Regions from separate parts of the Homo sapiens genome. Here all the other regions are reported to be linked to region 2. Evidence: microRNA targets listed by miRTarBase, many of them from high-throughput screens and not tested one by one. Region 2 holds a microRNA gene; each other region holds the end of a gene's coding sequence.
What was found. Region 2 holds the annotated microRNA hsa-miR-520d-3p (AAAGUGCUUCUCUUUGGUGGGU, at 2,456-2,477, shown strand). A microRNA usually pairs through its seed, bases 2 to 8, with sites in the 3' UTR of a target mRNA and lowers its output. Matches are read on the target gene's strand: a 7mer-m8 pairs with bases 2 to 8, a 7mer-A1 pairs with bases 2 to 7 and ends in A, and an 8mer does both.

Region 1: the mRNA of GDF11 is a reported target of hsa-miR-520d-3p. Seed matches in the 3' UTR shown: 7mer-m8 at 961-967, 8mer at 1,869-1,876, 7mer-m8 at 3,205-3,211 and 7mer-m8 at 3,895-3,901.
Region 3: the mRNA of FOXK2 is a reported target of hsa-miR-520d-3p. Seed matches in the 3' UTR shown: 7mer-A1 at 1,112-1,118 and 7mer-m8 at 2,093-2,099.
Region 4: miRTarBase lists KPNA2 as a target of hsa-miR-520d-3p. Seed matches in the 3' UTR shown: 7mer-m8 at 3,137-3,143.

Annotation. Positions count from the first base shown.
Region 1 is chr12:55,749,626-55,753,625 of GRCh38, forward strand. GDF11 (growth differentiation factor 11) reads left to right here. Exons shown (of 3, transcript NM_005811.5): 3 at 1-4,000. The coding sequence ends at 257. It also overlaps a transcript of SARNP not described here. Among named protein-coding and RNA genes, the nearest start is that of GDF11, 8.5 kb to the left of the region's middle.
Region 2 is chr19:53,717,694-53,721,842 of GRCh38, forward strand. MIR520D (microRNA 520d) reads left to right here and starts at 2,403; the gene lies at 2,403-2,489. It overlaps MIR517B (microRNA 517b), which reads left to right and starts at 3,383; the gene lies at 3,383-3,449. It also overlaps the pseudogene RNU6-803P.
Region 3 is chr17:82,601,178-82,605,177 of GRCh38, forward strand. FOXK2 (forkhead box K2) reads left to right here. Exons shown (of 9, transcript NM_004514.4): 9 at 126-3,425. The coding sequence ends at 322. Among named protein-coding and RNA genes, the nearest start is that of FOXK2-AS1, 15 kb to the left of the region's middle. RefSeq lists a silencer at 1,845-1,954.
Region 4 is chr17:68,045,840-68,049,839 of GRCh38, reverse strand. It overlaps KPNA2 (karyopherin subunit alpha 2), which reads right to left. Exons shown (of 11, transcript NM_002266.4): 10 at 3,919-4,000; 11 at 2,986-3,336. The coding sequence ends at 3,244. Among named protein-coding and RNA genes, the nearest start is that of KPNA2, 12 kb to the right of the region's middle. RefSeq lists a silencer at 1,400-1,600.

The DNA.
Region 1 (4,000 bases), not on the chromosome of region 2:
AGGCTTTCGGCTGGGACTGGATCATCGCACCTAAGCGCTACAAGGCCAACTACTGCTCCGGCCAGTGCGAGTACATGTTCATGCAAAAATATCCGCATACCCATTTGGTGCAGCAGGCCAATCCAAGAGGCTCTGCTGGGCCCTGTTGTACCCCCACCAAGATGTCCCCAATCAACATGCTCTACTTCAATGACAAGCAGCAGATTATCTACGGCAAGATCCCTGGCATGGTGGTGGATCGCTGTGGCTGCTCTTAAGGTGGGGGATAGAGGATGCCTCCCCCACAGACCCTACCCCAAGACCCCTAGCCCTGCCCCCATCCCCCCAAGCCCTAGAGCTCCCTCCACTCTTCCCGCGAACATCACACCGTTCCCCGACCAAGCCGTGTGCAATACAACAGAGGGAGGCAGGTGGGAATTGAGGGTGAGGGGTTTGGGGGAAAGGGGAAGCAGGGGCATAGTCAGGGTGGGGAGTGTTTGAAGTTTGCAGATGAGAAGGTTTGACAAAAAGACAGAGAGATGTAGAGACAGTGATAGAGACAGAGGAACAAAAAGAGCAGCAGTGAGAAGGCAAAGAGAGAGGCAGAAGAGACAGACGAGGCAGAGACAAAACACTGAGAAAGAGACTGAAATGGAGTAATAAATGAAAGCCCCACACCAAGCCTCCTTTCTTCCACTGGCAAGGTGAGGGGCTTGGTATAGTTTGGGGAGATCCCCTGACTATTCAGTAGGAGAAGAAATCAAAAATCCATTCTTTTCTCCTTCTCTCCCTCCAACAGTGGCCAGGGGAAGGGGAAGTGAGGGCAGGGGCAAAAAGATTTGGGAATTTTTATTTATTTATTTATTGTGACTTTTCATTTTTTTGGTATTTGGCTTTACTGGAATAGGAGGGCCCCTGCCCACTGTGCCCCGTTTATCCCTTATTCCCCAAACCCTGCTCTCCCCAACACCTACTCACTTAAGCACTTGTATAAAGCCTCCAGGGTTGGGAATGGGAGTAAAGGGCAAGAGGGCGGACACATGAAGTTTAGTTTCTAACCCATCATCACCCTAACTCAACCTTTTCTGAGCCAAATGGCTTGAATTGAAGCCAGTTGTCATGGAAATAGTAAGAGGTTAGGGTTTAAGAGCTGGGGATGCGGGGGTGGGAGAGAGAACCCTCAACATCCAGGATCTATATAATGAGAGCTACTTTAAACCCTCAGGTCCACCCTCATGATGCTGAGTTATTTAGCCAGAGGGTGCAGCCTGCTTATGCCCAAATTCCCTCAGCCAAGAGAGAGACCAAAGAGCCTCTGGAATGGCCCTGCTCCCAGCCTCTATCTTCAGGTCAATTAGAGAGAGTATAGAGACCCCAGAGTCCCCTGGGTCTGGAAAGCGTTAGGAGAGGTCAAGAAAGGAGCAGTAAGGAGGCTGAAGGTTACAGGGCATTTGAATCCAAATCACTGCTCTGGGCTAGGGAATAGAGCCAGCAGACCAAGGTGGGAAGGATTCTGGAAGGGGGACATTTTAGTCTCCTAACCCCAAAGCTCAGGGTGGAAGAGGGGAGAACAAGGAAGCAGAGTGTATAATTATTTTTTCCTTTTATTTTTGGAATCTAACAGTACCTGGCAGCAGGGAGGGGAAAGTACAGTGGGGAAAAGCATCTGACAAGGCCAGTTAGAACAGAGGATGGGAAGGATGGAGACTCCCGGGCTTGGAAGGCTAGGAAGCAGGCAGAGACTGGTTGCCATTTCAAGTCACTAGCTAGGCCCATTCATTCCTCCCACAACCCTGACCCATTCTCCTCTGGACTCACTGTGCCTCAGTTTCTTCCCCTCAATGGAATGAGAAATGACAGCACCCGCCACAGCCAAGAGATGAATTCTGAGCACTTACCACGGGCACTTTATGGACATAAAATACCTCTCGCTGTGGGACAGATAACCAGGGCACCAGAGTAGTGGTGAAGAGATGTGAGGCTTAAGAGGAGTCACAGGCTTCAGAGTACAAGTTCCCCTCTGCCTCCCAGCTGGACAGTGCCTAGAAGCCAAGGAGTTGAGAATCTCCTGATCCACACCCTATCCTTACTTCACCACCAGGCCTCTTGGCTCCAGGCAAGAGCTTAGAGGATGTCAGGAGAGGTGGGGGTAAGAATCTTCAGCAAAACTGTCACTCTAAGTAGAGCCAGCAGTTACGGGTCTGATAAAAACAGTACTGAACTAAAGTAAAGCCCAAGCTGGTGAGCAAAACTGGATGGCTCATTCTTCCCAAGAGCATGACTCTCCCCCTTGGCCAGTTGGTGGAAGGGGCAAAGGTATGTGACCACCCTTGAGAAGGTGATGTTGGTGAGCTTTAACATCTTATTCCTATTCTTATAGTGAGAAAGTGAAACAAGATCTTTCAGTAGAGGAATGGGCAGGGCTGTTAGGCTCTTCAGCTTGCCTTCACCCATATAGCAGCTATGCTAACCCCAAGCCTCTCTGGCCCTGTTCTTCATCCTTCCTTCTGCCCCAATCCTGAAGGACAAGACACACCCGGCCATCAACACCACTCACATTTCCTTGGTGGAAGGAAAGGAACAGAGAAGTGAAGAACAGATACCTCCCTCCAAGGTCAAATGCCTCGTGATCTTGGCAGAGTAGGGATTGGGCAATAAGCATCAGGTATCTTCCCTCTACAGATTCTAGAGAGCTGGGGCATTAAATATGGGGGACACTTAGAATACAGCTCCTTAAATACCACCAAATAAAGACCTTTGTGTGTGTGTGGTGGGTGGGGGGGGGGCAGGGGTCTTTCTCTTATGAACATAAATCTGTGAGCTGAAGTCTCATTCCCCTGTTCCTCCCTACCCCCAAAGAGGCACAGAGTGAAGGGACTTGGGGGGCACAGCTCAGCAACCCAGTGGGAGTTAGCACCCCCTCCCACCTTATGATGTGTGTGGACCTGGCCAGTGCCCCTCTGAACATATCATTATTAGTGTAATTATCATTTATTTTGTGTATTTGTCACATTGTGTGCATGACAGCCTTTGTTAAGGGTGTCTGAGGAGTATGGAGCTGACAGGGGCATTGGAATGCCAGGAAAGAACTTCTTCAACTGAGATCAAGGCTTCCTGGAGGGAACCACTGCAAAAAGGCCATCAGGCAGTTTTCAAGTTATGTGACAGAGGGCAAAGACGGCCATAGGGTGCTCTGAGTTTTGGGATGGTCACATGACACAATCCAGCACTTGAACCTGAAAAAAAAAATAAAAGCGGTCAAAGAGTTTAGAATTCAGTGCTGAGCTCTTCTCCCTAATCAAGTGCCACATTTACACCTTGGAGAACCGGAGGTGAAGAGGATCTGAGACAGGAAACCTCGTGTTCAATGACTAAGAAGATGGGGTCCTGGAGCAAGACAGAAAACACTAAGGGCATGGTGGTATAAGGTTTGGGACATGCAGGCCAAGGAAGGATGGAAAGAGGACAGGAAACTGGGGGTACCTAGAACAACCCCTCTCTGAAAAGCTTGAGCCAAAACAGTCCCAAAGACAACAAGACCCCTCTCCCAGCCTCCACAGAATGGAAGATCTAAAGGTTCTCTTGAGATGATCCAGCTAGTATGGAAGATCTAAAGGTTCTCTTGAGATGATCCAGCTAGTGTCCTATTCTCCTGCAGTCCCTGTTCCTAGGTTTCCTCAACGAAGTTTGACAAAAATCTAAACCAACATAGCCAACGAACTTGCCTTGTTACACAAGAGTGGCTAAAATAGCATCTCAAATATTCTTTCAGTTCACTGTAAAAATTTTTCCCATGTACCTAGAGCACAATTCCCCAGGAATATGAGTTGGGAATGGCAAAAGAATATTGCCTGACTCACATTTTTCAAAAATAAGGAAAGCTGGCTGGGCGCAGTGGCTTACATCTGTAATCCCAGCACTTTGGGGGGCCGAGGCGGGCGGATCATGCAAGGTCCGGAGTTCGAGACCATGCTGGCCAACATTGTGAAACCTCATCTCTACTAAAATACCCAAAATTAGC
Region 2 (4,149 bases):
TCATTGTCCCTTGCAGATGGGATGTGCCCTGCTTAGCAAGAGCACGGAGGTGGAGTGCATGGCTTTGAGTTTTCACTGGGGCACGGAGGTGGAGTGCATGGCTTTGAGTTTTCACTGGGTAAATGCAGCTGAACTCTTGGCTGCACGACCAGGTCATATGTGCAACGAGACAGGGGTCTCACTATGCTGCCCAGGCTAAAATGGGCTTAGGTCCTTTTGCCTCCACCTCTCCCCAGTCCTTAGTAGCTGGGACTACATGTGAATATTAACCATGCACAGGCAAGAGGAAAGAAAGGACCGTTCTTTGGTTCACACCTAGCCGCCAGTCAAATTAGTATTTTAGATGAAGACTGCATTTGAGACATACTTGAACAACAAATGATTTGCTGTTTAGGTGTGGGCATCTTTCTTTTTTCCTAGTTTTAATAATGGCACCAGGCAGAGTACAGTGGCCCACGCCTGTAATTCCAGCACTTTGGGAGGCTGAGACAGGAGGATCACCTGAGGTCGGGAATTTGATTCCAGCCTGGCCAACATGGTGCAGCCCCATCTCTACTAAAAATACAAAATTAGCCCAGCATGGTGGTGGTATATGCTTGTAATCCCAGCTACTCTGGAGGCTGAGGCAGGAGAGTCGCTTGAAGCTGGAAGGCTGATCTTTCAATGAGCTGAGATCACGCCACTGCACTCAAGCCTCGGCAAAAAGAGTGAGACTCCATCTCAAAAACATAAAAAATAGGCCAGACACGGTGGTCCACTCCTGTAATCCCAGCACTTTGAGAGGCCAGGACAGGCGGATCTCCTCAGGTCAGGAGTCCAAGACTAGCTGGGCAAACAAGGCAAAACCTCGTCTATACTAAAATTAGGAAAAATGGCTGGGAACAGTGGTGGACACCTGTAATCTCAGCTACTTGGGAGGCCACGGCAAGAGAATCTCTTGAACCTGGGAAAAGGAGATTGCAGTGAGACGAAATCACACCATTGTACTCCATCCTGGGTGACAGAGTGAGATTCTGTTTCAAAAATTAAATAAATAGGCCGAGCACAGTGACTCATGCCTGTAATCCCAGAACTTTGGGAGGCCGAGGTGGCGGATCACCTGAGGTCGGGAGTTCAAGACCAGCCTAACCAACACGTAGAAACCCCATCTCTACTAAAAATACAAAATTAGCCGGGCATGGTGGCGCATGCCTGTAATCCCAGCTGCTCGGGAGGTTGAGGCAAGAGAATCACTTGAACCCCAGGGGGCGGAGGTTGTGGTGAGCCGAGATTGTGCCATTGTATTCCAGCCTGGGCAACGAGTGAAACTCTGTCTCTAAATAAATAAATAAAACTATTAAATAAACATTAAACGTTAAAAAATAAAAATAGATAAATATGAGATCATCATGAATTTGAGTGTCACCTTTGCGCAGGGCCCATGGTAATCTTTGTCATTCCAATTTTTTCATGCGTGCTGCCAAAGCTAGCACTTGTGTGTAGGAAGTATTCTTCCTGTGAGCATACAATATATGGAAGTTTCTTTTATTATTATTATTTTTTATGTTTTTGCGACTGAGTTTTGCTCTTGTCGCATAGGCTGAAGTGCAATGGTGTGATCTGGGCTCCCTGCGATGTCCACCTCTTGGGTTAAAGCGACTCTCCTACCTCAGCCTCCTGAGTAGCTGGGATTACAGGCATACACTTCCAGGGCTAGCTAATTTGTTGTATTTTAGTAGACGGGATTTCTCCATGTTGGTCAGGCTGGTCTCAAACTCCCGACTTCAGGTGATCTGCCCACCTTGGCTTTCCAAAGTACTGGGATTGCAGACAGCCACCGCGGCTGGCCTTCATATATTCTTATATATATAATATCATGTACACACAAAAGACTCTTTTACACCCTGAGAATACTCTTATATCACTTTGGGCATTTTTTTGTTGGTGTGTGCATTTTTTGTTTGTTCGTTCGTTTGTTTTTGAGACAAGATCTGGCCCTGTCACCTATGCTGGAGTGCAGTGGTGTGATCTCGGCTCCCGGCAACCTCAACCTCCCACCTCAGCCTCCTGAATTAGTGTCTACAGGCATGCACCTCTATACCTGGCTAACTTTTGTATTTTTACAGATGAGGTTTTACCATGTTTCCCAGGCTGGTGTCTAACTCCTGAGAATATAAGGTATATGTAGTAGGCGTTGCTTTTTCTCTTTGAAGACAAAACCCAGGACAGTTGTCCCTCGATGAACAAGGCTAACCTGCTGAACGTTTGAAGCAAGGAACTGGAGATGGTCTTTGTATCGGTTTATGTTCTAGATTCCAGAAAATATGCAAACAGGACCAATAAATGCATCTTTATTTTTGTGTCCATTTTGACCAGGTCAAGGAAAATTTCAACAAGAAACCCAGAGTGCCGGAGCAAGAAGATCTCAAGCTGTGAGTCTACAAAGGGAAGCCCTTTCTGTTGTCTAAAAGAAAAGAAAGTGCTTCTCTTTGGTGGGTTACGGTTTGAGAAAAGCAACGTTGAAGTTGATGCTGATTTCGGTAATACATTTGCAGAGCATGCTTATCACACTTGGACGATGGTGGGGTTCTGTTTTGGTTTTGCTTTTTTATTCTAAGGCTCTGTGTTGCTCATGCTGGAGTGCAGTGACATGTCCAATATATCTCTTGGCTTCAAATGGTCAGCCTGGGCAACACAGGGAAATTCTGTCTCAAAAAATAAACAAATGAATAAAAATACAAAATAAAGCCGGGCATGGTGGCTCATGCCTGTAATCCCAGCACTTTGGGAGGCCGATGCAGGTAGATCATCTCAGGTCAGGAGTTTGAGACCAGTCTGACCAACGTGGTGAAAATCCGTCTCTACTAAAAATACAATAACAACAAAAATTAGCCCAGTGTGGTGGTGGGCACCTGTAATCCCAGCTACTTAGGAGGCTGAGGCAGGAGAATTGCTTGAACCCGGGAGGCAGAGGCTGCAGTGAGCCGAGATTGTGCCACAGCATCCAGCCAGGATGACAGAGTGAGATTCCGTCTGAAAAAAAAAAAAAAAAAAAAAAGCTGGGCGCTGTGGCTCACGCCTGTAATCCCACCACTTTGAAAGGCCGAGGCGGGTGGATCACGAGGTCAGGAGATCGAGACCATCCTGGCTAACACGGTGAAACCCCATCTCTATTTAAAAATACAAAAAATTAGCGAGGCGTGGTGGTGGGTGCCTGTAGTCCCAGCTACCCGGGAGGCTAAGGCTTGAGAATGGCTTGAACCCAGGAGGCGGAGCTTGCAGTGAGCCGAGATCGTGCCATTGCACTCTAGCCTCGGCAACAGAGCAAGACTCCGTCAAAAAGAAACAAAAACAAAAACAAAAAAAAGAACCCTACAGTACTGGAGCAAGAAGACCTCATGCTGTGACCCTCTAGATGGAAGCACTGTCTGTTGTCTAAGAAAAGATCGTGCATCCCTTTAGAGTGTTACTGTTTGAGAAAAGCAACGTTGAAGATGCTGCTGATCTTGGTAATACATTTGCAGAGCGTGCTTATCATCAGACTTGCATGATGTTGGGGTTCTCTTTGGTTTGTTTTTTTCCAAGACAGGTTCCCTGTTGCCCAGGCGGGAGTGGGTGGCACCTCCAACCGAGATCTCTTGGGCTCAAGTGGTGATCTTTTTATTTTTGATTTTTTGAGATGCGCTCTCATTCCGTTTCCCAGGCTGGAGTGCAGCGGCAGGATCCCTGTTGACCGGAAACTCCGCCTCCCAGCTTCCGGCGATTCTCCCACCTCAGCCTGCCGAATAGTTGGGAATAGAGATGCCCGCCATCGTGTCCTGCTAGTTATTATTTTTATTGTTGTTGTTGTTGTTGAGATGGAGTTTCACTCTTGATGTCCAGGCTGGAGTGCAGTGTTGCAATTTAGGCTCACTGCAACCTCCACCTCCTGGGTTCAAGCGATTCTCCTGCCGCAGCCTCCTGGGTAGCTGGGATTACAGGTGCCTACTGCCCCACCCAGCTAATTTTTGTGTTTTGAATAGAGACTGGGTTTCACCATGTTGGGCAGGCTGGTCTCAAACTCCCGACCTCAGGTGATCCACCAGCCTTGGCCTCCTAAAGTGCTGGGATTACAGGCGTGAGCCACCGCCCCTAATCTCACGTGGTCCTCTAGAGTCAGCCTAGACTCTG
Region 3 (4,000 bases), not on the chromosome of region 2:
GAGGGCGAGAGTTCACATGAGAGCGTGGGGTTCTGACTCGCGAGGGTTCACGTGAGAGCGTGGGGTTCTGAGTCGCGAGGGTTCACGTGAGAGCGTGGGGTTCTGACTCCCTCGTGTCATTTCAGCCGCGGCGAGTCCTTTGCACATGTTGGCAACACACGCATCCGCATCGGCCTCCCTGCCCACAAAGCGCCACAACGGTGACCAGCCGGAGCAGCCGGAGCTGAAGCGGATCAAGACAGAAGACGGCGAGGGCATCGTCATTGCCCTGAGCGTGGACACGCCACCGGCAGCCGTAAGGGAAAAGGGTGTCCAGAACTAGCGACCGGGAGAGCTTTTCTTTAACGATATCAACTCTGTGGTGCCAAAAGGAGACGCGGCCTCCCGCCAGCACTCGGGGGTGCAGGGCCCTGTGGTTGGACTTCACCTCTCAGCACTGAAAACCCAAAACCCAGCTGGCCTTAACACTCCTTAAAGACAGAAGTCACACTTGAACAAAACCCACACACAACAAAACCTGATTTGGGAGACGGTGTCTCCACTGAGCACCTGCTGGGCTGAGCTTCTACCTACGAGTGAAACTCTGTCCTCCCGCGAGGACCAGGCATCGCTGTGTGAGGACGGCACGGCCAGCGCCTGCTGTGAGTGGGTCTCCCAAGACTAGGCCTCAGGACGCGGGGGGAGCCATCCCCGCCGCCCTCACAGGACCCACCAGGCAGCGGAGACATGTGGAATTAGAGTATTTTGAGGTGTCCTTTCTTTACAAAATAATGGGGTCTTGGGCATTTCACATCACTCCATTTCTACTGAGACTTTCAGAATCACACAGGCCCTTTCCGTGGATTTCATTTGGGGCAAAGAAACAACGTAGTTTTGTTTTTGTTTTCAGCCTATGGAATGATTTCCTTTTGTCTGTCTTGTTCAAGTTCAGACGAAGCTACTCTGGCATCTGCACATTTCCGTGTTACAGCAGCTGCCTGATGAATTTTATCCACCTCCATTTCAGCATGTGGCTCGCGTGGACAGGTGGACGGACGCTGTGGCCGCATGGAACCTTGAGAACCCAGGGACGAGCCAGTGCCGGGAAGGAACTGCCGGGACTCACCGAGCTGCACTTAACTGTTCTCTTTCTGGCTATTTTTTGTTGTTTGTTTCTTTGTGTTGACTTTGTCCCTGGCAAAATTTTCCACTCTGAGTAAAACAAGTCTCCTAAGTATTGTGTATGTTTAAAACGACAGAACCATTTCTACTTCATTTGGAAAAAGATTCAGTCTTTTATCACAGGCCCTTTTGAAACTCAGATCCCAGGTCTCTCCGTGGTATGTTTGTATTTGGGGTGTCCCTCCGGCTCTAGGCGGCCTCTGACCTGCTGTCTACTCCCCACCTTCGGTGAGCGGCCGCCATGGTGGAGCAGGGTCCGAGCCACGTCCTGCAGGGCACGTCTGGGGCATTTCCTGTTTTGTGGTAGGAAATGTCCCTGACCTTTCAGAACCGAACCCAATCCTGAGGCTGACTCCTCTACGGAAAATGAGGACAGGACGGGGGTGAGGGAATGAGAGTGGGAGGTCCCTGCACCTCCTCGCCCGGCTCCTCAGGAAGAAAACCGCTGGCCCTTCCCGAGTGTGCCGGCCGAGGGCCGAGGGCCGTGCACATGGGGAGAGGGCGTCAGCCTGATGGCTGAGCTTTTAAATGTCATCATCATAACATTATTTATTTAAATGTAGTTATTTTGGTATTTAATTTTTTTTTAGAGAGGAAAAAACCTGTATTTTCCTGGTGGGATGAAATAGGGATGAAATGGCTCAGAATGGTATATTTAGGCAATTTTAAAACATTTATTATTTACATAAAGACCAAATATGATGAATCTGTTCCGTGAATTGTGTCGGCCCTCAGCATGGGGCTGGGGCAGCGTCACTGCGGTGACGCCCATTGAAAGGTATGAAATGACTGCACACTAGCTGGATTATCACTCAGCCGTTTAAGAAATAAAAGCAAAACCATCACGTGACTGAGACCGTGTGTGTGACCGCAGCAAAGCGCAGCGTGTGGATGGATCAGAGCCCCTCGGTGCAGCTGTCTGCATCTTCCAAGCACTTTACAGATACCTTGGAATGTATATTTTTGTCTTCTTACTCAGAAGGTTTGCAGTTTGTAAAATAATCAGGATTCTGCTCTGTCCTGTGTGTGGGGTCAGCTCCCTCCACAGAGGGCTCCAGCTCTGTTGGTCACAGCTGATGGGGTTCTCTGATTGATAGGAGACGAGCTCTTGAGCTCTAAGGAACAGTGAGGTCGCCGGTGGGGAGCTTGGCTGGGACACCAAGCAAATGCATCGTATGTCCCCTTGGAGACGTTTTTATGCAGCTGTGTATGTTACTATCCAGAAGGAGTCGGGGGTAGACTTTCCCGTGTAAGCTCAGTCCATAAACTGGTTACTTCTGATCCTGGAACGTGGACTTCACATGATAGGTCTGGATCTGTTTCTGTTGGGATCACAGGTAAGGAAAATGTCCATTCAAATGGTAAAGAAGGGAGGAGGGTGTTTTTTTTTTTTTTTTTTGCCGTAGGCACCATTCTGCATCTTGAACCCAGACTGAAGTGTGCCTCTCACAGATGGAAGGTGCACACGCTCCTGTCTCCTCCTCACTCTGCCACGTTCACTTGGCTTTTTCATTGGTACCTAGGAATTTAAGAATATCGAAGCGAGAGCAGTAACAAACCATAGATGAGCAGACTCCCACACCGGGTTTTCTTGCCCGTCTTTAAGGCACTGTTTCTAAATTTTGAACTTAGCTCTGAATCCCCAAGAACTTGAGCACAGCAAGGGTTGCTGAGCTGCTGTCGCCGCAGCCCTGGCCCCTGGTGCTGGAGCTGCAGCACCTTTGGGAGAGGTCCTGCGTCGTCCTCAGCTGCGTCGCTGTGAACTCCCGCTCTCCACTGTGTTCCTCAGTGTCTGCTTTTCAGGAAGTCTGCTGTGACCTTTGCCCAACTTCTGAGCTCCTCAGGGACTAGGAACAATTTCAGTAGCTTTGCCCTGAACCAAACGAGAAAACAAAAGGGAACTCCCGTATGACCCACGTCACGTGGTGCACTCAGAGTGTGTGCGGCATGATCCTCGGTTGCTCCTCCTCTCACTTTAGTAGAGTACGCGGTGGACAGCTGATCTCCTTCAGTCGTCTACCCACTTCCGTCATTGTCCTCCGCTAGAATAACAGAGTAGTTGGTAGTCATGGCCAGAAGGGGGGTGGGGGCAGTGTGAGGACTTGGGGTTTCTGTGCTGTGTGACACAAGGAGATAAGTGACAATCTTGAAGTCCTAACTTCCACTATTCTAGAAAGTATAGTGGTGATTTGTGTGCAAAGATTTGAAGTTTTAAAAAAGTACCAAGTTCCTGAAATTCAATAAAATATTTTTATTAATTTTAATGGAATGCAGAGTATCATTTTCATTTTGATTGACTGACTTTTTACTTCATGCTCTCTTCTGAGCACACCGGAGGCCTAGCGCATTGGCAAGAACTTAACCAGGGAGCTGCACTGAGGACCAGCACTGCAGGCCCTGCCAGTGGGACAGCGGGTTGAGCGTGCAGGTAGAAAAGGCGCCGTGTCACAGGCAGTGGTAACAGGGTCTTGATTGATTGATCTATGATGTCGGAGTTTTAAAGTTACTTGGAGATTGTGGCTGCCACTATTTCTTCTGCAGACTTTCTCTCCAACCTGAGAATGAAGATCACTGCAAAGCATCTTGAGGGACATTTTCTCAGAAAATGAAAAAGCAGCTCTTGGCCGGCGCGGTGGCTCATGCCTGTCATCCCAGCACTTTGGGAGGCCGAGACGGGCAGATCATGAGGTCAGGAGATTGAGAACATCCTGGCTAACATGGTGAAATCCCATCTCTACTAAAAATACAAAAAAAATTAGCCGGGCGCAGTGGCGGGCGCTTGTAGTCCCAGCTACTCGGGAGGCTGAGGCAGGAGAATGGCGTGAACCTGGGAGGTGGA
Region 4 (4,000 bases), not on the chromosome of region 2:
TGGTGTGGTGGTGCATGTCTGTAATCCTGGCTACTCGGGAAGCTGAGTCGGGAGAATCTCCTGAACCTGGGAGGCGGAGGTTGCAGTGAGCTGAGATCACACCATTGCACTCTAGCCTGGGCAACGAGAGCAAAACTCCATCTCAAAAAAAAAGAAAAAGACCATCTCATTCGTACATGTTTTTCTACATTTCTCCTCTATTTCAACAGTTTTGCTTTTAAAATATGTATTTTTGCAGCCACAATCGGGAGATGCCTTCTGGATATCATCCTTTGACCATTAATTTTAATTTTGAATTGATTCAAAGTTTTCTCATTCATCCAATCTTTCCTCATATTCCCTTGTTTTTATGGATAAGCTTCCAATATTTCTGCCTAAACTTGTTCAAGTTCTAAACATGAGTTTCTTCATAGTAGAAAATATGGCTTTGTGGTGGCTGTCTCAACAGTCAAGTGTTTGCTCATTAAAGAAACTTCATTAACACTAGTATTAGGGGCCTATCAGGTATTGATACTGACAAGCTTCCATCACCAAGTTGGACTTGGGTGGTTCAGTCCTGTTCTCATGGCCAATGAGAAGTTAGGGGAGGAGGTGCTCCAATTATTACGTCCAATAGAATTAAGAGAAAGGGAACCAGTGGGCACAGGAAGACAGCTGGACCTCTCACTGAGATACTGCAAAGGCTAACAGCCAGTCTAGGAACTTAGTCACAGTGGGCCCTCCTTGAGCCAGTTCCACTGTTCAGAAAGCTATGCCAAGCCCCTAAAAGACCTAAAGGCTGACAAAACATCTGACTTTTCGGTAGAATCCCATCATTAAGTATATGAACAATCCAGTATGGTCATCTTATGTTATGTGTATCTGACTGATAAGGGGGAAAAAAAAAGAAGAGTAATAATCAACTTAGCCTAGAAGGTAAAATATATCAAAACAAGAGTCTATGTAAGAACAAACAGAAATCTTTGGTGTTAAAAGGTTGGAGGCAGCCAGGTGCAGTGGCTCATTCCTGCAAATCCCAGCACTTTGGGAAGCTGAGGCAGGAGGATAGCTTGAGGCCAGGAATTTGAGACCAGCCTGGGCAACACAGCGAAACTTTGTTTCTTCAGTTATTACAGCTATTCCCAAAAACAAAAAGTTTGGAATAGCCGTAATACTCATCTAGGATATTTCTATTATGTAGGAATTAGTATCTATACTTTTCTTATGCCAGCACTTAGCTGCCCCACCAAAAGGTCTTTCACTGACACAATAAAGAGGCAGGATTTGAATTCAGACAGATCTGGCTCTTAAATACTAGTCCACTTCACTGCACCATGCTACCTCCCACAACTAGGATGGGAAAAGACATTTACGATTGTGAAAAGCCTGGAACGCACGAACTGATCAGTTTAAGAGGGTTCGATGCATACACCTCCTACACAGTGTTATGAAACTGTCCCAAATATTTAGGAGGAACTGAGCGTTCAGACACTAGAATTAGCTTTCAAACTATGCCAACATGTCATTTAACATGCAAGTGCTCAAAATTAAATTGCACTTCTGCCCTCAAAAAACCCTAGTTGATAGCTTGGGTGTTTCTTATCATTTTTATTAGCTGGGGTTATGAAACTTAAATGGGTGATGTTGCTAAAACACTTTTCTCTAACACTTTCCCATGGGGAGTTAGAGGGAGGCTGCATGATTTGGCCGGGTTTTGTTCATCACAAATTAGGTCAACAGCCCAATCCCAAAAGAAAGCACCATTAGTGAAATGACACGTTTCAAGGGCTTTCCAAAATCAGTCCACTGGGTTTTGGCAAGCTCCAGCAAGGGTGGAGAGGGGTAAGGAGCAGCCAGGCCTTAATGGCCTTCTGAACTTGGGTCCTGTATCTGACAAGGTTTCCAATGGCTCCTATGAACAAAACTGACTTTGCTCTTACTGCTGTTATGCAATTAAAGCAGCCAAATGCTGAAATAAAAAATCTTAACAATAAGGATTTACAGTAACGAAAAATTACCCCGTTTTTTCTTCAGTGATGATGCAGCCAGATTGATGAGAGAAAAAAAAAATCAACATTAGGAAACAGAATGTTGATTTCCTTTGTTCTAAAAATAATCAAGTAGCCTGATTATTTTTAGCCAAAATGCAATATAGCAATGAAAGAATACTTTGTGAAATGTTTAACACTGACATCTTTTAATGTTACTCTTTTCAGATTATTTCAACAAGCAAAGTAAGTGTCAGCAGTTTTTACTATAATTGCCAAATGGTATTAGGAATATTACCTTTCCTCCCTTGCTTACAACAAAAACAAATACAAAAATTAAAGTTATAGGTAAAGATATATTATCAAAGGGGATTTTTTTTTAGACAAGAGTCTCGCTCTTGTCACCAAGGCTGGAGTGCAGTGGCGCAATCTCAGCTCACTGCAACCTCCGCCTCCGGAGTTCAAGCGATTCTCCTGCCTCAGCCTCCTGAGTAGCTGGGATTACAGGCTCCCACCACCATGCCTGTAATCCCAGCTAATTTTTTGTATTTTTACTAGAGACAGGGTTTCGCCTGGGTGACAGAGCGAGACACCATCTCAAAGAGTAGTGGCTATCAACCTACACTGTACAGGAGCCCTTGGGAATTACATTTTTAAAAAAGACACATGGTGGACCCTCATGCCCCTCATCAACGAAACAGAACTGGGTACTTTCCCAGATGAGGCCCATGTGCAGCCGTGATTTACCTTGGAACCCCATTCGGCCTTGAAGTTTGGGAGGAAAGAATTCCATTTGTAGCTCCAGCAGAGATTTATGATTAAATTTACGGTGTTTAGCCCATCTCCCTGGCCAAGGAGACTTAAGGAGACACTGGCTGAGGGTTTCCAGAAAATGTTATTCATTCTTCTGCAAAAACTGCAGCCAGGACTACCTCTGGTTAATCCCATCAGTTTGGACAGGTTACCTTTCACTAGCAACATTAAAGGCCCCAAATTAGAAAGCAACACATAGGCATGGTGAAGTCAAGAAAAGGGTGGACTTGAATGTTTATTTACAGGATGCTGCAAGATAGGAAATTCCACATAGAAATTAGAAACCTAGTCAGAGGACAAGCTTCATACAGTATGTATGTACAGTTGGAACTGTTCAAGTATAGTTTCAGTGTAAAAAGTGCTACAGTAACAAACCACATTTAAGAAAGAGTTCTTAGTAGAGAAACAATAAGACAAAATACCAAACGTAGTACACAACAAATTTATGTCTCAGCTACATGATCTAAAAGTTAAAGGTCCCAGGAGCCCCATCCTGAACTTGGAAAGTGTAGCCTTCAGAGGTAGTTTCTGGTACAACGTTTTGATCTTCCTCTTCCTGGAAATATATTAAAAAATAAGTATAAAAATGATATAAGTATTCCAAGCAGCAGCCTACCTGAAGTCTGTATTTAATCTCTAGGTCTTGATCTGCATATTACACCTTTAATCCTGTATGATATTATAGTATTTGACATAGAGGAGGGAGGGTCTCTGAAACTTTGCCAATTCATAAATGCTAGCTACTACAGTAACACAAACAGGCCGAGATTTTTTTCTTCCCCAACCGTCACTTTTCAATAGGAAAAGACTGTATTAGGCCCAGAGCATGGTGATGAGTTTGGCCTACTTCTCTATCACCTCCTACAATGACACCCGTTAACTTACCCTCAAGATATTCTAAGATTCTCAAGGTTGTTCATTTGAAACTAATCTGGTGGCTTTTAAAATCTCAGTTTAAAAAGATTTTATTACCATCAAGCCAAACTAGAGGGGCAAATAAGTACATTATGTCCCATGCACACTGATATTTTACTATATTTAACAAAGATATGACACTTATTTTTAAAAGGGAAAAAAAGGCTTATGGCCTTGACTTTATGTTTCCAAGTTGTTATTAATATTACCATCCATTACTCACCTCTACAGAGAAATACTTCTCAATTAAGCTTAACGAAGCCTTATACACAGACTCATTTTCATGGTTTTGTAGAGCTTCAATT